Regions from separate parts of the Homo sapiens genome. Here region 1 is linked to region 2. The links come from fine-mapping of genetic effects on gene expression. A gene starts in region 2. The other region holds a variant in brackets. All regions are shown on one strand. Distances are from middle to middle. Region 1 has its middle 16 kb from the start of MIR759. Region 2 holds the start of PCDH8 (protocadherin 8).

Evidence for each region.
Region 1: its variant is fine-mapped to the expression of PCDH8 in thyroid (GTEx, PIP above 0.99).

Annotation. Positions count from the first base shown.
Region 1 is chr13:52,820,913-52,831,523 of GRCh38, forward strand. It overlaps the pseudogene PPIAP26. Among named protein-coding and RNA genes, the nearest start is that of MIR759, 16 kb to the left of the region's middle. The variant G/T (reference allele first, on the strand shown) is at 6,658.
Region 2 is chr13:52,843,030-52,853,640 of GRCh38, forward strand. PCDH8 (protocadherin 8) reads right to left here and starts at 5,611. Exons shown (of 3, transcript NM_002590.4): 1 at 2,777-5,611; 2 at 2,396-2,603; 3 at 1-1,904. The coding sequence starts at 5,407. The coding sequence ends at 1,531. RefSeq lists enhancers at 3,796-4,684, 4,685-5,574, 5,705-5,999, 7,345-7,639, 8,314-8,523.

The sequences.
Region 1 (10,611 bases), 22 kb before region 2:
TGGCAAGGTGAAAGAAGGCATCAATATTGTGGAGGCCATGGAGCGCTTTGGATCTAGGAATGGCAAGACCAGCAAGATCACCATTGTTGACTGTGGACAACTCTAATGAATTTAACTTGTGTTTTTTCTTTTTAAGATGGAGTTTCACTCTTGTTTCCCAGGCTAGCGTACAATGGTGTCATCTCTGCTCACTGCAAGCTCCGCCTCCGGGTTCAAGTGATTCTCCTGCCTCAGCCTCCGGAATAGCTGGGATTATAGGCACGCGCCAGCACGCCTGGCTAATTTTGTAATTTTAGTAGAGATGGGGTTTCATCATTTTGGCCAGGCTGGTCTCAAACTCCTAACCTCAGGTGATCCACCCGCCTCAGCCACCCAAAGTGCTGGGATTAAAGGAATGAGCCACCATGCCTGGCCAACTTGTGTTTTTTCTTAACCACCACGCCATTCCTTCTGTAGCTCAGGAGAGCACCCCTCCACCCCATTTGCTTGTAGTATCCTAGAATCTTTGTGCTCTCGCTGCAGTTCCCTTTGGGTTCCATGTTTTCCTTATTCCTTTCCACGTCTAGCTGGATTGCAGAGTTAAGTTTATGGTTATGAAATAAAAAGTAAATAACAACAACAACAACAACAAAAAAAAAACCAGATTTTTTTTTTTTTTTTTTTGAGACAGAGTCTCACTCCACCCAGGCTGGAGTGCAGTGGCATAATCTCAGATCACTGCAACCTCTGCACCTCTGCCTCCTGGGTTCAAGCGATTCTTCTGCCTCAGCCTCCCGAGTAGCTGGGACTACAGGCATGTGCCACCATGCCTGGCTAATTTCTGTATTTTTAGTAGAGATAGGGTTTAGCCGTGTTGGCCAGGCTGGTCTCAAACTCCTGATCTCAGGTGATTCACCCACCTCGGACTCCCAAAGTTCTGGGATTACAGGTGTAAGCCACCATGCCTGGCCTAAAAAACAGATCTAAATCAAATAAACAACCCACACATACCGCATGCACACACATTAAGGTTGGAAATAAAGAGATGGGAAAATATTTCCCAGGAAAAGTTTGACTAAAAGAGCAAGTATGGTCATTTTGGTATCAGATGAAACAATGTCAAGGTCAAATGCATTAAACCAAATCAAGAACAATATTTTATATAACCTGGCTAGGAAGTGCAAGCAAATCAACTGACAAATAGTTGGATCCTATAAGATAGGTCAGTAAGATGGCTAGGCACAAAATTAATCTCCACAAATTAATAGCTTCTCTATATACTAGAAATAACTAAGAAAACAAGAGGGATAAAAGATTCAAATCATATTCACAACAATAAAATGCACAAAACACCAAGAATACTGATATGATAACCCTAACAAGAAATGGGCAAGAGCAATAATGAAAAAAACTATAAAATGATGATGACAACATTATTATAAAAACCAAGAATTGAACCCTGAAAACAGAGACACACCCAAAATGGAATTACTCAACATTGTAAAGATGACAGTGCTCCCCAAGGCAGTCTTTGGAGTCACTGCCATCCAAATAAAATCCCCAGAATTTGGTAAACATATACTAAAATTAATCTGGGGGAGAAAAAGCATAAGAATAACTGGGAAACATTTTGATAAGTAGTGGAGGAGAGGCTTGCCCTACCAGATATCAAAATATGGTCCTCAAGTTTAAGAATTAAACTTGTGCAAAAAGTGACAGATTAGTAATACAGAATAGAGGATCCAGAAACACAAATCAATTTATGGCACTTTAGTTTTTGATGAAAATGGCATTTCAGGTAGTGGGAGGTGATGTTCAGAACAATGTTGGGAAAAGTACCTATTCATTTTGAAAAATAAAGTTGGAATTTAACCTTGTGCCAACACAAAAATAAATGGGTGAGGTATTAAAAAGCTAATCATAAAACCTAAACTTTAAAATATTGGAAAAATAGGAGATTTAAGAAAAATTATGCTGAAATGGAGAAAGCCTTCTTATGTAAGACACAGATTAAAAAAAACAGAAAAGAAAAAATGGGTAGATTTGACTACACAAAACAAAACAAAACAAAACAAAATCCAAGACACAAAAATTCTCTGTGGGAGGTAGTATTTGCAAGATATAAAATACACAAAGGATTAATGTATATTATACTTAAAGAACTCTCATAAATCAACAGACAATCAAAAAAAAATGAACAAGGGACGTGAATAAGCAATTCACAGTAGAAGAAATACAAAAGTCAATATATATGTGAAAAACACTCAACATTATTAATAAAAGGGAAATGCAAATTAAAATAAGAATGTGACATCAATTTTTATCCACACTAAGATTGAACACAAATTTTAAATGATAGAAACCATTCAATAATATCACATATATATCAGTAAGCTTTTTGGTTGTAGGTAGCATAAACACATGATTTAAACTGCCTTGAAGAGTTAGTGAATTTGTTATTTGACATAACCAAATGTCTACAGATATGGCCACTTCCTGGTGTGGTACCTTCAGTGACTTATAATGACCTTTCTTTAGTGCTCTGCCAAACTTCATCCTAAGGCCGTAACTCTTAAGAGTGGCAAAAGGGTTAAGCCTGTTCCAGATACCACATCCAGTCCTGAAAAGTTTCACAAGAAGAGGGGATCTTTTCTCTTGTGACTCTTTTAGGAGTAAGGAAACCTTTCTAGAAGTTTCCCCAGGCACATTTTCCTTCGTGGTTCATTAGCCCAGAATTGGGTCACATTTCCCTCCCTAAACCCATCTCTGGAAAGGGAAATGGGCTTATCCTTATCACGTGGATAAGGAGGCATCCACCATGACCACTTTAACAAGGGCATGGGGAAATTGGTACTCTTACTCGCTACTGAATTGGTTCAGCCCATCGGTATCTTCCAAAATTCAAAATTTGTACATTCTTTGAATTATCACTCCAAGGCATCTCTATAGCTGCAGAAATACTGGCATGTTGCATCAGAAACATTTACAAGGGTATTCACCACAATGATGCTTATCTTAAAAATTGGATATCCTCTGAATACGCATCTATAATGGAATGGTACATTCACACAGTGCGATATAAGCAGCAGTTTCAAAAACTCTTTAAGGCATAAGTGAAAAAATCAAGTTATAAAACTGTTACATTTATGTTATAAACACACTTAGAGATAACTATTTGCATACAAATGCATAGAGAAGGCACTCAAAGGATACATGCCTTACTTTCAAGGAGGAAAGTCAGGATGTGGGGTATGTAGATGATTCTTCTTATTTATTTGATTTTTTAGTCTTATCATAGTGGCTTAGGCCATAAAGACATTTATTGTATTGACATTTATGTATCTTACATAAAAGTCTGGAGGTAGGTATTTCATTGTATGCGTGTGTGGCAAGGCAGTGATATTACTAAAGACCCCAGCTCTTTTTATCTGCTCAGCCATTCTTAGCATATTGGCTTAAACAAACATTTTTATTGATACACATATTTGTACATATTTATGGAGTATATGTGATATTTTGTCACATGCATAGACTGTGTAATGATCAAGTCAGGTATTTGGGGTCTCCATCACCTCCACTATTTCTCATTTCTATACGTTGGGAACATTTCAAGTCCTCTCTTCTAGCTATTTTTAAATAGAATACATTGTTGTTAACTACAGTTGCCCACTCTGCTATCAAAGATTAGAACTTATTTTTTCTATCTAACTGTATATTTATACTCCTTAAGCATGTTGGCTTTTTACTCAGGTTTATTACAAAGGGTCCCAAACTTTCTGGTCTGTAGTACCCTTAGTGTCTCAGTGATTTTTTTTTAATGGTGCCACTAGGCCAAAATAAATACCTAAAATTTATGTTTATTGGGTAATTATTAATAGGTCCAAACAATTTAGTAGATATTCATGACCTAATAATTGAGTAGCCATTTGAAAAAAATAATACACACAAATTGAAAGACAAAGTATTTTCATTTCATTGGTAAATAACTGTAATTATTTACTAATGGGATCCATAATTCTGATGGGCACTATACAATTTCTTGAACTTTACTGCTATCCTCAACTCCCATTGCATTTTCATTTTTGCACAGTACTTTAAAAAAATTACAACTGCTGAAAACCGCATTTCACAAAGATATGCTATCAAAAGGAATTTAGTGCAATCTAATATTGAAAGTAGGAACTGTCTGGATCTAGCAGTTTTCATGATGCTTGATATGTTATCACTGTTTTTAAAATTTTCCCCTGCAAATTTACATTGTGATGCCTCTGGAGTTCACTGTAGCATTCCAGGGTGCCTCAGTGCATGGTTTGGGAATTGCAGGTTTATCATCTTGTAGCTGCAGGATGGTTGTCTCAGCTCCAAGCATGCATCTCTGTACAACAATATTCATGGAGGAAGAAGGTACAAGCTTTCTTCTTACTTCTTTCATTCCATTTCAAATTTATTGCAATAGAATTTCATGTAACAAAGTTCACCTATTTTGAGTATATGGCCAGATAAGTTTTGACGAATGTATACATCTGTATAATCTTCACTACAATCAAGATACAGAAGACTTTCATCACCCCAAGAAGTCCTTTTGAGCCCTTTTCCACTCAATCTCCCCACCATCCCCCAGTGACTAGTGATCTGCTTCCTATCACTATAGATTAAATTGATCTTTTCTAGGTTTTCATAGAAATTAGACACAAAGTATGGACTCAGGTGCTGCATACTAATTCTAAGACTCATCTATGTGGTTGCATGTATCAGTAGTTCACTCCTTTTCTTGCTGAGTAGTAGTCTGTTGTTTGACTATACCACCATTTGTCATCCATTCACCTGCAGGCAGACATTTGAGTTGTTTGCAGTTTAGGGCTGTGATATGGTTTAGCTCTGACCCCACACAAATCTCATCTTGAACTGTAGCTCCCATAAACCCCACTGTCATGGGAGGGACCCAGTGGGAGGTAATTGAATCACCAGGGCAGGTTTTCCCATGTTGTTCTCGTGATAGTGAATAAGTCTCAGGAGATCTGATGGTTTTATAAAGGGCAGCTCCCCTGCACACACTCTCTTGCCTGCCATCATGTAAGATGTGCCTTTGCTCCTCCTTTGCCTTCCATCATGATTGTGAGGCCTCCCCAGCCATGTGGAACTGTGAGTCCATTAAAACTGTTTTTCTTTACAAATTACTCAGTCTCAGGTATTTCTTTATAGCAGTAGTGAGAGGTGAAAACGTGCTGGCAGCCCTTGCTCACTCTCAGCACCTCCTCGGCCTCGGCGTCCGCTCTGGCCACGCTTGAGGAGCCCTTCAGCCTGCCGCTGCACTGTGGGAGCCTCTCTCTGGGCTGGCTGAGGCTAGAGCCGGCTCCCTCTGCTTGCTGGGAGGTGTGGAGGAAGAGGTGCCGGCGGGAACCTGGGCTGCATTCGGCGCTCGAGTTCCGGGTGGGCCTGGGCTCTGCGGCCCCTCACTCAGAGTGGCTGGCCGGTGCCGCTGGCCCCGGGCAGTGGAGGGCTTAGCACCCGGACCAGCAGCTGCAGAGGGGGTGCCGGGTCCCCCAGCACTGCTGGCGGGACCACACCAGGCTCGAATTCTTGTGGGGCCTCAGCTGCCACCCTATGGGGCAGGGTTCAGGACCTGCAGCCTGCCATGCCCGAGCACCCCCGCAGTGGGCTCCTACGCAGCCTGAGCCTCCCTGATGGGCGCCACCCCCTGCTCCACGTCGCCCGGTCCCATGGACTGCCCAAGAGCTGAGGAGTGCAGGCGGGAGGTGCGGGAGTGGCAGGCAGCTCCACCCACAGCCCTGGTGCGGGATCCACTAGGGGAAGCCAGCTGGGCTCCTGAGTTGGGTGTGGACTTGGAGAACCTTTATGTCTAGCTAAAAGATTGTAAATACACCAATCAGCACTCTGTGTCTAGCTCAAGGTTTGTAAACGCACCAATCAGCACCCTGTCAAAACAGATCAATCAGCTCTCTGTAAAATGGACCAATCAGCAGCATGTGGGTGGGGCCAGATAAGGGAATAAAAGCAGGCTGCGGAGCCAGCCCCGGCAACTCGCTTGGGTCTTCTTCCACAGTGGAGACTTTGCTCTTTAGCTCTTTGCAGTAAATCTTGATGCTGCTCACTATTTGGGTGCGGACTGTCTTTTTGAGCTGTAACACTCAAGGGGAAAGTCTGCAGCTTCATTCCTGAGACCAGCAAGACCATGAGCTCTCCAAGAGAAATAAACAGCTGCGGATGTGCCGCTGTAAGAGCTGTGACATTCGCCGGGAAAGTCTGCAGCTTCAGTCGTGAAGCCAGCGAGATCATGAAGCTACCAGAAGGAAGAAACTCAACACGTCCGAATATTAGAAGGAACAAACTCTGGACACACTATCTTTAAGAACTGTAATACTCATCGCGAGGGTCCGTGGCTTCATTCTTGAAGTCAGTGAGACCAAAAACCCGCCAATTCCGGACACAGTACGAAAGTGGACTAATACGGGCTGGTGTGAGTAAAGCTGCCCTGAACACTCGGGGACAAGTCTTTGTGTGCATGTATGTTTTTATTTGTTTTGGATGATGTCTTTCTCTCTTTGTAGAGGGCAAAATTATTTCTAGAATCCCCGGACCAGACTTTCACTTATGTATCATTGGCCAGTCCTAGTCACCCTCTCATCTCCAAACCAATACCTAAAAAAGGAAATGGAG[G/T]CACATTGGAGCAATCCCTTGACATCCTTTGGGGTTGGGGGATTGAGGTCCTCGCAGGAGCGAGTTGCCTCCCTGAATAGTCAGCCTTACCAACACAGGAAAAAGGAAGGAGTAATTTTTGGGTATGCAGCCATCCGTGTCTGTCACATTACTTTACCCGTGAGTATTTTTACTACAGAATATAGTAGTAGCATTATTTACATTTCACAGTGAGAGTCTTTTCTCTGACATAAAGGTGCTTAAGCAGATCCATTGCCAAGAGATATTCAACAATAGTCGTAGGAATAAGCAGAGAAGAGACAAACATAAAGTTGACAGAAAGAGAATTGCTCTGGGGAATATGATATGAGGGCACAAGCATCATATGGAGAGAATTTTACCAACTGGCTGCCAGATGTGGGCCTGCCCTGGGCTGAGGCACAGCTGGTCTGCCCTACAGTAAATCAGATGTGGGAGGCAAGTGCCATCTGGCACGTAAACTTGGCAGAGCCTGGAAAGACAAGTGAACTCACGTGTGAAGTACTTATTATTATGGATGAACATGAGCAGAGCTCTGGCACCAGCAGCAGGGCGAGCAGTTTCCTTCACCTAGGGTCTTAGGTCTCATCTGCTGCTGCCACAGCGCGGCCAGCCGAGGGACTCCCTGGCCCTCAGCACCTCTTCTCTGGTCGAGGCTGACTTTGCTTTAGTTATGAGGAGCTAAGGAGTTTGGCCCTTTAATTTCAGCCCTGATTTAGCATTTCTGCCCTTTCTCACTTCTTCCCTTGTACTCTCTTCCTAAGAGTTTGTTTCCCTTTGCTAAGCTTCTCAAGTGCAGGGACCAGATCTTGCATATTGTATTCGCTGTTTCTGCTCCTGGCATTCTGCCTTGCACAAAGTAGGTGCTCAACAAGGCATTGCAAAAATGTCTTCGCCACAGATAAAGACCAGAGGGAAGTATTGTGAAAGTGGTATTTCCACCCTCCACTGTTTGCATCTATTTCCAAATACCGGTTGATTGGTAACATCTAAGACGGATCACAGCAAATATTGTACATGTTTAGTGCACAATTCGGTTAACATTGCCCTAAAAGATTCCATTAACCATAATTCTGATATATCCACTACTAAGAATCGTAAAATGTTCGAGCTGAAAGGCACTCTAGAGATGAGCATTTACGAGGCCCAGAGATTTGAAGGACTTGCACAAGGCCATATTGGAAACAGAACAGAACAGTTATCTATAACCCACTTTATTCCTGCAAGAATTTAAACTGGGTTTTAAGGATAAATAAAATATAAGCCAGCAAAATTACAATTAGGAACAAAAGAACGTAACTTAAAAATGAGCTTGAGAGTAAGATCAAAATAGAAATATATACCAAAAAGGGAGCCTGCAACAGGTTAGCCCCAAACTTGGCTCTAAACATCTATATATCAAAACAGGAAAAGAAACGTGGTTACGTACAACTTTCATGATGTGTATGAAAGTAAAACAGACCAGTAGCTCCTAGAAGTCTAATCACTGTTGGTACCAGTACTTGACAGGCATCAGCCATAAAAAGAGCTCCGTGGGTGGCCGGGCGCGGTGGCTCACGCCTGTAATCCCAGCACTTTGGGAGGCCGAGGTGGGTGGATCACAATGTCAGGAGATTGAGACCATCCTGGCTCACACGGTGAAACCCGGTCTCTACTAAAAATACAAAAAATTAGCTGGAGGTGGTGGTGGGCACCTGTAGTCCCAGCTACTCCGGAGGCTGAGGCAGGAGAATGGTGTGAACCCGGGAGGCGGAGCTTGCAATGAGCCAAGATCGCGCCACTGCACTCCAGCCTGGGCGACGTAGCGAGACTCCGTCTCAAAAAAAAAACAACAAAAAACAAAACTCCGTGGGTTATAACAAAGGTCCTCAACAGTATCCCAGTGATGCACAGAAAAAGCATCCCTTAGTGCAGGGATGGTAGCTGATGGCAACTAAGCAAAGCTCATTCTGGAAAAAGCACTCTATGTGGGCGTAGGGGAGAACTGAGAACCAAATCCAGGATTACCAGTCGTAGAAAAAAAGTTTGCCAAATTGAGATGTGAAAGAATTGAACTCAGAATTCTGTGACATCAGGAATACAATAATAATTACTGTTCTTAATTATGACCCAGAGGCACTGTAGGCTCCAAAGTATTTTCTGAATCATCTAAGAAAATTTTTTTTAATTTCAATCTGGTTTCATATTAATTTAGAACTTAATTAGCTACTATCATCTGTTCTAGCTGTTATTTCATATGTTTGTTTTATTCCCTTCAATTAGATTGTCATTTTCTTGAGGGCTGGGGTCTGCATATAGGGAAAGTGCCAACTTACTTGACAAATGTAACATGAATCCCCTAAAGTTGACTGTAGAGGTGAAATCTCTGCATGAGGAAGGACAGCTGGACTTTTTAGCCCTGATTCTTTTGAGCTCTTTGTGAATTTCTGTTTCTATCATGAAAATAGGAGGTGGTACTGCTTTCTCCACTAATACCATCTCTTATTCCAGTCCCTTAATATCCCATGGCAGATTTGAGACTAATTTTGAATATTAAATAACACCTTATAAAGAGGCCTAAAATAATAAGAGGAAAATAAATACAGCATGTGAAACTACAGAATCTAGCTTACAACCATTACCAACAATGACTAACATCAACATCAACAGGTACTGACAATATAATATAAGTATTTGGAACCCAGATCTGGAGCCAAACTATTTGGGTTCAAATCCTAATTCTACCATTTACTAGCTGTTTAACTTTGGACAGGTTGCTTAACCTCTCTGTGCCTCATTTTTCTCATCTTTAAAAAGATAACTGTACTTATCTCACAGAGGTATTGTGAGGGTTAAATGAACACTTATAATAGTGCTTGAACATAGTAAATATATATTGGCTATTAATGTTATAACTAGGCACTTTTTATAAGCCACACACTTTATATATAATATTTGTTAATTTAACCTTCACATGATGCTCTACTTCAGTAGTTCTCAAATTTTTGGTTTGTAACACTCTTGAAACTTATTGAAAACTCTGAAGAACTTTTGTTTATGAATGTTTTATGTATATATACTTACTGTATTAAAATTAAAACTGTGAGATTCTTAAAAATATTAATAACTAATTTAAAATGATGAGCCCAATACATATTAACAAAATAATATAATTACTACAAAAAATAAGTATCTTTTCAAAACAATTTTATGAGAAACGGGCATTATTTTACATTTTTACGAATTTCTTTAGTGTCTGGCTGAATAGAAGATAATTGGATTCTCATAATTGCTCCTGTATTCAAGCTGTTGCAATATGTTGTTTTGGTTTAAGTATATGAAGAAAATCCATTATCATACAGACATGTAGTTGGAAAAGGGAAGAGTATTTTATTAGCCTTTCATTTAATTGTGGCCCTCTTTGTGATCCGCTATACCAAAACTTTACAAGTGGTAGTATTTTACAGATTAGTGGCCCTGGAATCTGAAACCAGATCAATGAACTTTTCATCCCTTGTTACATTGGTCTGTCTTGCACTTTAAACAGATCATTTACCTATGCATGACTTTGTGACATCATCCACTGTCCACTGGGAAAATACTGATTCACTGAGTCATGTAGATCAACTAAATTTAGAAACATTAACATTTGTTAGTATTATTACCAGCAGAGAGCTCTGTCTTTTCTTTCTTTCTTTCCTTATCTCTCTCCCTCCCTCTCTCTCTGTCTCTCTTCCTTTTTGAGATTGGGTTTTGCCATGTTACCCAGGCTGGTCTCGAAATCCTAGGCTCAAGTGATCCCTTCGCCTCGGCCTCCCAGAGTGTTAGGATTACAGGTATGAGCCACTATGCCCAGCTGGGCTAGTGCTTTTCCTTGAGACAACCATAGTGCTTCTGAACACAGCAGAAATGTTCTCTGCATACTGTCCATTTTGTCACACAGAACATTAGTGTTAA
Region 2 (10,611 bases):
TACTTCCCATATCCTGGGGGTAGTTTGCTGATTAAATGAGATAATTCATGCAGAATGCTTGGTAAGGAGCTCTGCTCACAGAAGACTTGCTCAGTAAATGTTAGGTCTCATTATGCTTATCATCATTTTAATTTCAAATGAAATCCATAGAGTATAAGACATAGGCATAGTACTCTTGAGTGTCTTTTTTTAAGACTTTCCATTATGTACATTTTCAAACACAAACATTTAGAGATACTGCTGAAATTTCCCTACCTCACATGCACCTATGCTAGCATTGACAATTATCAATATCTTATCAAATCGATCTTGTTTCACATAGCTCCCTGTGTTTTTTTCTAGAACATTTTAAAGCGAATCCCAAACATCATGTCATTTTGCCCATAAATTTGAGTGGAATAGAGCTGATAGTTACTTTGGAGACTGGCTCCAGAGGAAGGCAAGGAAAGAGGAAGTAGGACAGAATGTAGTGGGAACCTATTATATTCCAAAAGACTAAGATGTTAGTCTTTTTGATACTAACACCCCGAATAAGCTGAGGGCTCTTTGGGACTACGTCTTCTTCACCTCAAACTCCAGCTTGAGGAGGAGGTACCAGCAGCTAGTAAAAGTTCTACAGATGCTTGTTTAATTAGTGAATGAACAACCCAAACTTAGCTTTCTTCACTTTTTGGTGGCTGCTCAATGAATATTTACCTAGTGAATAAATGAGAGCAGGGATTTTATAGACTAATACATATGGAGATGCACATAATTTATGAAATCAACACACGTTTTTAATACTTGGGTGACATTTTGCAATACTTGAAATCCTACAGGTTTAATATTGTCATGAACATTAATAATGCCCAAATAATTAGCACTTGAAAGAAGGTTTCATTCTGATACTCAAATTATTTGTGAATGTCTGACTATAGGCAGCTTCATGAAAAGCAATTGGCAGATTCTTCAAACACATGACAAATCTTTTATTACTGTGCTTATAAGTGACACGGTTTACGGAAAACCAAATGTAATTAAATAACATTGAACTTGAAATCTACCACAGAGTCAAGATATACAAGTTATACTTGGCAAGGCAAAATTTCTCAAACACTAGGTTGTTTCAGGTGAAAGATAAATTTCAATTAAGTAATTCCAACATGTTTTGTTTTTTGTCTTACAGACAGTTCCTTTGGCAATAACTTCCACTTTAGCTTTTATTATATAAAAATATAACAAAATTTCATTATATACAAACATTACATTACACAATGTACAGGTTAAAAACACTAAGAAAATGGCAAGCCGCAATTGAAATCAAAGTCAATAGCATAAGAAAAATTAAATACTGCACACATTTCATAAAAATTACATTAACTACATTTTTGTTTGCAAATACCAAACAGTACCAATGTGATTGGAAATAGCTTCCAACAACTTCATTGTAAGGCACATCTTGCATATTTATATATACAACACTGAAACCGGTCAATAACTTAGGGGCTTCTCGGAGTGACCTGTATATGTGTGAAGACATGCAGCATGGGATTACACATTTTCATTGGCTCCCTTCTTCGGGGACAGGTACCTGCCAGGAGGGGACTGGTAGAGGGGTACTCCAATCTCCTGCAGGTCTGGGAGCCTCCCTGGACGGGGAGGGGAGAGCAGAGTGACTGTCCTGTCATAGTCTCTGTGCAGTACTTTCTCATAGACGCTCTGCAGCCCCACTGTCTTGGGCAGCTGGGCCTGGTAGTAATTGTCCCTGCGCAGAGGATCCCGAGGCAGTGACGTGCTCTTACAGAAGGTTGACATCTGGGCTGGTGGGTGAGGCGATGGATGTGCGTTGGGCCCGCTGCAGGATGGGCTCCAGCAGCGGTCAGAGTGGCCCAGGATCTTACACTCAGCGGTGCACGCCCACAGTCCTAATACGAAAGGGAAAAGGAAACAGCATGACGATTATTCCTGAGATTATACATATTCAGGCTTCCATCTTCAGCATGTCAGCCTGGGTCAGGGCAGCTGAAAGGAAAGGCTGTGCGCATAGATATACACCGTGTCTCAAGAATCGAAGGCACATTGCTTCCTGTAAAGCCATCTTAATGCAAAGCTGGTCCAGCTTCTTCAGCTGGAAGTGAAAAAAAAAATTGATAAGCAGAACCCACTTTTTAATGGCTAGCATCACCCATGCTGCTGCCTAACAGGATGAGGGTGTGTTTTATTCAAGAGCTGGAGTTGCCTCGACTTGGCATTTTGAAATTCACCGTGTGAGGCAGGCCCGTATCCGCAGCTGTAGGAGTGAGAAAAAGTGGGGAAGAGGGAAGGGGGCTGGGAACCGAGATTGAGAGGAGGCAAACAGTGGTGAAGGGGAGGGAAGGGAGGAATGCCGAATTTGGCGGGAAAGAAGAGTCCTCACCACTCTGCATGTGGTTGATGAGATCCTTTTTCAGAGCGTCCCCGCTGATGTCGGAATCGCTGTCGTTGAAATCACTGTCCCCTTTACCGCTGTCTTTGCCGCTGAACTTCTCTGCTTCTCTGCCAGAAATGGTGTTGAAGGAGTGTCCTTTCCACACCGCCACAGGGGGCGCCGGCTCCTTTCCAAAACCCGGGGAGGCACCGTAGGGCTGCAGCAGGGAATAGGGGAATGGGAGTGGGGGGAGGGTTGGATAAGAAACAAACAAAAAACAAGTGCGACAGGTTGTCTACCTGAATGCACCCACCCTACCCCTCCAGTCTCCCTTCCCCCAGCCTGTCCGCGGAGCTCGGAGGGGGGCGCCCAGCCGAAGGAAGGCCTCACCTCGGCGTGCGCGCCGCGGAGCCGCTGCTGCCCCTCGAAGTGACAGGCGCTTTCCCCAGTGGCGCTGCCGCCCTCTGAGCCCGGCACTTCGGCCGCGGCGACCGCAGGCGGAGGCGCGTCCGCCGCGGGGCTGCCAAAGGGCGCTTTGCCGGTGCCAGGGAAGGTGAGCACGTCGAACATGTTGGGCCTGGGCCCGGCTCCCCGGGCGGCCTCCTCCGGGGAGCCGGGAGCCGAGGCTCCGCCGCCCGCCGCCCCGGGCCGCTCTTCCCGGAGGGCCCCCCCTTTGCGCACCTCCTTCTTGCGGCGGTTGCAGGTGGTGGCGATGGCGATGATGGCGGCCAGCAGCAGCGTGCAGCTCCCGGCCAGCACGATGATGACGATCAGCGGCGTGTCCCATTGCAGCACCGACCCGGACACCCCGAGCCGAGAGCCAGGCGGGCGGGAACGCTCCGGGCTTCCTGCACTGGCAGGCGCAGCCGGCCCACGCCCGCCCCCTGCTGTTACCACGAAGCTGACAGTTGCGGTGGTGGTGAGCGGGGGACGGCCGCCGTCGGATATGACCAGGAGCGCCCTGAACACGCGACCGGGTGGCTCCTGCGAGAGGTCGCCGGTGAGCAGTATCTCCCCCGTGCGGCGGCCGATGGCGAAGGCTTCGCGCGGCTCCTGCTGCTGCAGCTCGAACGCCAGCTCCCCGTTGGCTCCCTCGTCTGCATCCCGGGCCTGCACACGGGCCACAACCGTGTCCTTTGCGGTGCGCCCAGGCACCGCCACTTCTAGGGAGCCATTGGCTGGCGCCGGGTGCACCAGGACTGGCGCATGGTCGTTCTGGTCCAGCACGCGCACTTGCACTAGGGCGCTGCTGGAAAGCTGAGGGGAGCCGCCGTCGCTAGCTTGGATGCGAACGTCGAGTTGGCGCAGCGTCTCATAGTCGAAGCTGCGCAGCGCGTAGATGGCTCCGGTAGCTGGGTCCACCGAGACATAAGTGGACACGGCGCCCCCGGCGCGGCCCACCTCGGCCTCCAGCAGCCGGTAGGTGACCTGGCCGTTGCGGCCCAGGTCCCGGTCGCGGGCGGCCACCGTGGCCAGGTAGGCGCCTGGCGGGTTGTTCTCGCGCACCGACACCTCATAGACCGGCCGCGTGAAGAGCGGCGCGTTGTCGTTCTCGTCGCCCACACGCACCGTGTAGGGCCGCACTGTGCGCAGCGGGGGCGCGCCGCGATCCTCGGCCACCAGCGTCAAGTTGTACTCGGCGATGCGTTCGCGGTCCAGCGACGCCGCGGTCACCACCAGGTAGCTGCCCGCGTAGGCCGGCTGCAGCCGGAAGTGCTCGTGCCCATAGAGGGCGCAGCGCACTTGCCCGTTGGCGCCCGAGTCCCTGTCCGAGGTGCTGACCAGGGCCACCAGGCTCTCGCGCGCCGCCCCCTCCGGCACCAGCGAAGTGGCACCAGCCTCCGGCGTCCCGGCTCCCGCCGGCGAGCTAGCGTCCGCTCCCCCGAGTGCAGCGGCGGCGGCGGCAGCGGCGAAGGGTGAGGTTGCCGGCGCGCCTGGGGCGGCCAGCGGGGTGATGGCGATGTCGGGTGCGTTGTCATTGACGTCTCGGATGCGCACGATGACCTTGCAGGTGGCAGCGCGGGGCCCGGGTCCGCGGTCCTGCGCCCGCACGTCCAGCTCGTAGGTGTCCTGACGCTCGTAGTCCACGGGCCCGGCCAGGGTGAGGCGGCCTGATCGCGGGTCAAGCCGAAAGAGGCGGCGCGCCTCCGGCGGGGTGCGGGCGCCAAATGCGAACACCACGTCGCCGTTAGGTCCCTCGTCGGGGTCGGCTGCGTCCAGGTCGAGAAGCAGGGAGCCCACGGGCGCGTCTTCCGCCAGCTCCACTTCGGCCACGGCGCCCTGCGGGAAGGCCGGGCTGTGGTCATTCGCATCCAGGACGCGCACGCTGAGGGCAGCCGTGGCGGAGCGCGGCGGGCGGCCGCCGTCCTGGGCCACCAGCTCCAGGCTGTAGGCGGCCTGGCTCTCGCGGTCCAGCTCCTGCAGCAGCACCAGGTCTGCGCACTGAGCGCCGTCCGCTCGCGTCTGCAGCTCCACGCGAAAGGGGCTGTGCGGCTCGGCCAGGCGCACGGTCTGCAGCCCGTTGGCGCCCACGTCCTCGTCCACCGGCACCTCCAAGGGGATGCGCGTGCCCACTGCCGCACCCTCGGACACCTCTACCGGGATCTGGGCCCTGGGGAAGCGCGGCGCGTGGTCGTTGACGTCCCTCACCTCTACCTCCACGTGCACCAGCCGGAACTGCTCCTGCGAGAAGCTGACCACATCGAAGGCCAGCACGCACTGCGGGGCCTGGCCACACAGCCGCTCGCGGTCCAGGCCGGCGTCCCCGACGGTCAGCTGCCCGTCGCCTTCGCGCACCCGGAGCAGAGAGCTGTTGAATTGCTTCATCAGGCGGAAGCTTGTGTCACCCGATACTTTCATATGCAGGTCCTCGGCCAGGGTCCCGATGACCGTGCCGGGGGCATCCTCCTCGAAGGTGCTGTATCGGACTGTTTTGCTCTGGGCCACTGAGAGCACCCAGCAGAGGCTGAAGAGCTGCAAGGGGAAAAGGCAGGGGCTGCCCCAACGCCTCACAGGACTCATGCCTCCAGCCTCAAGTGCGATCCGAAAGGCTAAGGAAGTCTTCTCTGGTTTCCAGGTCGGGCGTCAGTCTCAGGCTCTCGGAATCACGCTCTTTGCGAGCCCTGTGCGGGAGAAGTCTGCGGGTAGCAGCTCCGAGCCTCCAGCGGGCTCTGAGGACGCGCGGACCCGCCCTCACTCTGCGCCTCTCCGTCTCTTACAGAAGCTGCGCCGCCTCGCGCCGCCTTTGCCTTTATAGCCGCCGATATGCTAATCACCCGAGCCGGGTAGCCAATGGCCGCCTCCCCCTCGCGTCGCCCCTCCGCCTGCCTCTGACAATCCCTTTAATGTGGAAAGGCTTAGAGGGGAAAACAAGAAAGGAAAATTAGGGAATCTTTCTTTTGTTTAACTCCTTTTGCTTTTTCCCCCTTTTCTTGTCAGCACCCTGCATGTAGAGGAGTTGGCACAGGGCTCCAGGAGTAAAAGGAGCGGATGGTTTTGTTAATTGTCGCCTGCCTCCCTCCGTGCCGCGGCTAGAACTAAGTGCGAACACGCTGGGGTTTCACCCCAGTGGCTCCTGATTCCGCCTTCCCCCAGCCCCTGCCAACACACACACTCTGCATTTTGCACCTCTGACGCTTCCAAACCCTTGCAGCCCCCTACCCACAGACTTGCTCTGCTGAATGAGGCTCTGCTTTCCTTCTCTCCTAGCTACGGTGCCTGGAATAGCCTCTCGATTAAGAAGCCTGAAGGATAAGGGAAAATTGATTTTATTCAAATTTGTGTACTCAATTGTGTTTTGCTCGTGTGAGCCCCAGTGATCAGAGCTGCCACTTCCCTTTCAGAAAAGAGCCCCGCGATATGTTAGTATGCACGTCACTGTCCAAGTGGCCTTCTTAAGCCCTGGGAGCTAGCAGGCAAGGAAAAAAAAGTTCCAAATAGGATTTAGCATAAGCTTGAGGAGATTTGGAAAGGTTTCAAAGATCAGACTGTATCAAAGGCTTATGAAGCCCTCGTTAGCAGTGGAAATAGAATGGTGTGGCAGGCGATCCCATTGGAGGCCCCAATGTCTGTATTATTTCACTGTGACAAGCTAAGGGGAGAGAAAGTTGAACAGTTTCCACAGCGGAGTTGGACTAACTTGAATATAATGAGCAAACGCCACATGTATCCATTATGTTCCTCTATTCATCCCCAATCACTGCCATAACTCTCCGGCTAAACGGTGATGGGCGCTGAATTCCACACAATACCCGGCTCGTATTAAAGTGCATTTAGAGAACTTTTTCCTCCTGATGCCTTGTTCCGCCTATTTAGAGGATTTTCTTTCTGTTCTAATAGGGCCACTCTGGGAAGCAACACTCGTCCGGTTCCAGAAGAACAAAATCACAGCGTGACGTTGAAACCTGGCAGGAACGTGGGGGGAACTTAACCATCTGCTTAGGAAAGTGTGGAGCTTCGGCACTGCCAAAATCTGGGCTGGGCGGATCCTGGGGCTGGCCGGGCGCTGCGCTGCCCCACAGATAGCCCCCTCCCATCCCTGACGGCCAGGGAGATGGAGCTCGGATCTGCAACAAGACGGATTCTTAATGATTCTTACTGAAGGGCTTTATTGAGCAGGCTATGCAAATACACACGAAGGAGGAAAGGTAAAAAACAAAAGCCACTCACTGGAAGAAATTTTTCTTTTTAGGCGATAGGTTTGGTAAGTAGATTGAATTCAGTAAACATTCTTCAGAATCCCGATTTTGGTCCTGCTGTCAGCGTCCTATCCATGTTTTCCTTTCCCTCAAACTCGAGGGAGTGTGTTTTGGGTTTTTTTTCAGAAGAGGGTCAGGAGTTTCCTTGGAGTAGGGAGACCAAGCAGGGAGCTGGGTGGCAGGGATGAGAGGTGCTTGGAATTGTCAGAGAGCGGAACATGCAGCTCCAGCCATCCATAAATACAAGCTCTTATAAGACTGGGGAGGGGGATGATGAGTGGCTGGAGACTTCCTCAGAGGGGTGTGTCTCTGGGTTCCCTTCTCCACCTCTTCCACCTTGTAGTCTTGGGAATGCTAAAAGCAATAAGGCCAGGCATCTGCAGCCGCGTGGGGACGTGGAAGGAGGAGCGCCCCCTACAGGAGCCCAAATCGCAGCCCTTTCTTCCGCTGTCTTCCATCTCCCAAGTGCGATTTAGTATGTAGCCCTCCCACCGTCCCCGCCCAAGAGATATTCCTTGGGGGGTACACGCAGTCGAAGGAACTTTCTATTTTCCTTCCGAGCCCCGCAACACTCCCACCCCAACCTGGGGCTGGCTGGTGACCTTTAGCGCCCCTAGGCTAACGTCATCTCTCCTCACCCCTCTTCCCCCGGAGACCCAGACGGGAACAGGTTCAGAACTTGGCTGGTGGACAGCGGCCTCAGCGCTTCCGCTGGCGTACCCAGGGCAAGGTCAGGCCCGCCTGGCGCTGCTGCTGCCGGGCGGAGGACCCGGAAGGTGGGGAAAGTGGGTGGAAATGGGGCCGGAGTCCCAAAGGAAGGGATTTCAGCGGTTTCCGCGAGCACAGCCCGGCCGCGAATGGCTGGGACCCGGACCTCGCGCCAGCGCCCCCTGCGCATCTGCACCCCGCAGTTCTGGGCTGGACTCGGGAGCCCCGCCACGCGCTAAGTTTGGGTTTTTCGCTTGGCCAGAGATTCGGAACTACTTGCAATTTCTACTCAAAGTGCTTCCGCGTCAGCATGCTCATTCTCAAGGCTGAAATAAACCAAGGCGTGCTTGAAAGTGGGAAAAGGAAAGGGGAGTAGGGGCAGGCAAAAGCCAGGAGGCGGGAGGAGGGGTGTAGGGTGGCTGGTAGCAGGTCTAAAGTGTTTTTTCCGCGGCCAGGCCCTCGTCGATCGGAAGTAGCCACGACGGCGGCGGCGCCGGGAGGCTGAGAGCTGGGAGCCGGGGAGCCCGGGAAGGGAGCCGCGAGCCTCCAGCCGCCACCGGCGCGCACAGGTCTTTCCGTGCCGGCGGTGGAGGTGTGAAGGCACGCGAACACCGTGAGCTCCGGGCCGGCAGCGGACAGCCACTCGATTATGGAAATACGATTTAAAATAGCACATCAACGTCCGCAGCAACTCCCCGGGAAGGAAAATATGTCCGGGGAGGTGGCGCTGGAGAGGAGTAGGGGAAAGGGAGGGGAGCTCGCCCGCCCGGGTGCTGATCAGGCCTCACAAAAGCCGCTCGAATCGCCTTGTTATCATACCAAAAGGTCTGGGCAGGCCCAAAGGAGCCCCTTTCTCTCGGTTTTAGCAACTTCGCCGGCAACTGTCTCGCAATCTTGAGAACAAACACAGCTCCACAATGGCCGGCGTTTTCTCGGAATGCAAATGTTGCGGGCTCCGCAAAGCTGGGTTTCTGTTACCGAGCCTAATGCCGGCATTGTGAAACTCGCGTGCAAACACCAAGATTGACATGGGCGTCACGTGATGGATTAGGGCTCCAGGAAAGTTTTCAAAGAGGCGACAATGGGGGGCTCAGACTGATCTGATATCTCCCACAGTTTAGCGGGAAAGAAAATCAGGATATATTCTCATATGTAATAGGATTATCTTGTCCATTTCAAGTTCTATACAGCATGTAATTTATTTTTAATTAGGATTATATCTACCAGGAAAGGGTACTAGACTTCACTGGAAAGTGTAATTCTAAGGATGGATGAAGAGGGGTTATTTTTTAAACTTTTACTTTTTTTTTTCCTTTAAAAATAAGCCCAGGGCCCTGGTTTTTCCTCCTACAGGCTCACCATTGGGTAAACCCCTCAGGGAAGTTTGCAGCAAGTGCTTGGCCAAGCAAAGAACAGAGGAAGCTCTTCGGGGCATCTAATTCATTTTTGTAGTGAAAACACACTTTGCAAAAATCTCATCAAATTCTGAAGCCTCTGGGTTTTCTGGGGTTGGTGCACTAGAAATGCAACCAAGCTGTTTTCTACACTCCAAATTCTTTTTTTTTCTTTTTTTTTAAAGTTATCTCTCTCTGTGTGTGTATTTGTTGGGCTGTCAGTATAGGCATGGTGACTTTTAAACTGTATAGTAAACCACAAAGCAGCATTCTCCATAGCCCTGATTCAAATTCAGCAGTCAGACAATGAGACAATTTGGGGGTGAAGGTAACTGTTATTTAAACATTGATTTTGGATTGATTCCAGTGCCAGATGCTCACAAACCCTGGATCATTTCCAGATCTTGGGCCACTCTTCATTTTGTGTGTTCTGTGTGTCACTCTGGGAGACCTGCTTTACCTGATAAGAAGCAGAACGCAGCTGTTGACTGCAGGATCTGGAATCATCCTGCTTGGGTTCAAATCTGATCATTACACTGATTGGCTGTGTGACCCGTGCAAATTATTTTCTCTCTGTATTGTTTTTTGTTTTTGTTTTCTGTTTGTTTTTTGAGATGGAGTCTTGCTCTGTTGCCCAGGCTGGAGTGCCCTGGCGTGATCTCCGCTCATGGCAAACTCTGCCTCGTGGGCTCAAGCGATTCTCATGCCTCAGCCTCCTGTGTAGCTGGGATTACAGGCCTGCACCCCCACACATACCCAGCTAATTTTTGTATTTTTTGGTAGAGACGGGGTTTCACCGTGTCACCATGTTGGCAAGGCTGGTCTTGAACTCCTGACTTCAAGTGATCATCCTGCCTCAGCCTCCCAAAGTGCTGGGATTACAGGCATGAGCCACGGCGCCCGGCCTGTCTGTATCTTAGTTCCTTTATCGGCAAAATGGGTATAATAATAGTACTTTGCAAAGTTGTTTTGAAGACTGTGTAAAATGATATAATATCAGGTGCTTAGGAACACATGTTAGTTTTTATTTCCCTTTAAAGCACAGGGAAGAAACATCAAAGACTATGTAATCTAAACCTCTTATTTTATAGGCGAGGGATTTGTTCAGAAAGAAAAATAACTCTCCCATTTCCTGTCTGCTTCTTTGCTTTGGTGACAACTGTCTCCCCAATTCCCTCATTCCTCTCTGGAAATAATAGGTATTGTGGTAGGTATATAGATCCCAGAGGAAAGAGACAATGGTCACCTGAGGGTTCCACCAATTTTTGTGCCCTCATGTCATTTCAAAACCTTTTGGTACCTTACTTGCTAGTTGAGATCAGATGTTGACAAAAAGGAGTTCTCAGTAGAGTTTTTTCCTACTCATTTCTATAAAAGCCATGTATTCTGACTGAAACCACCTACAGATACAGATATTTAATGGACA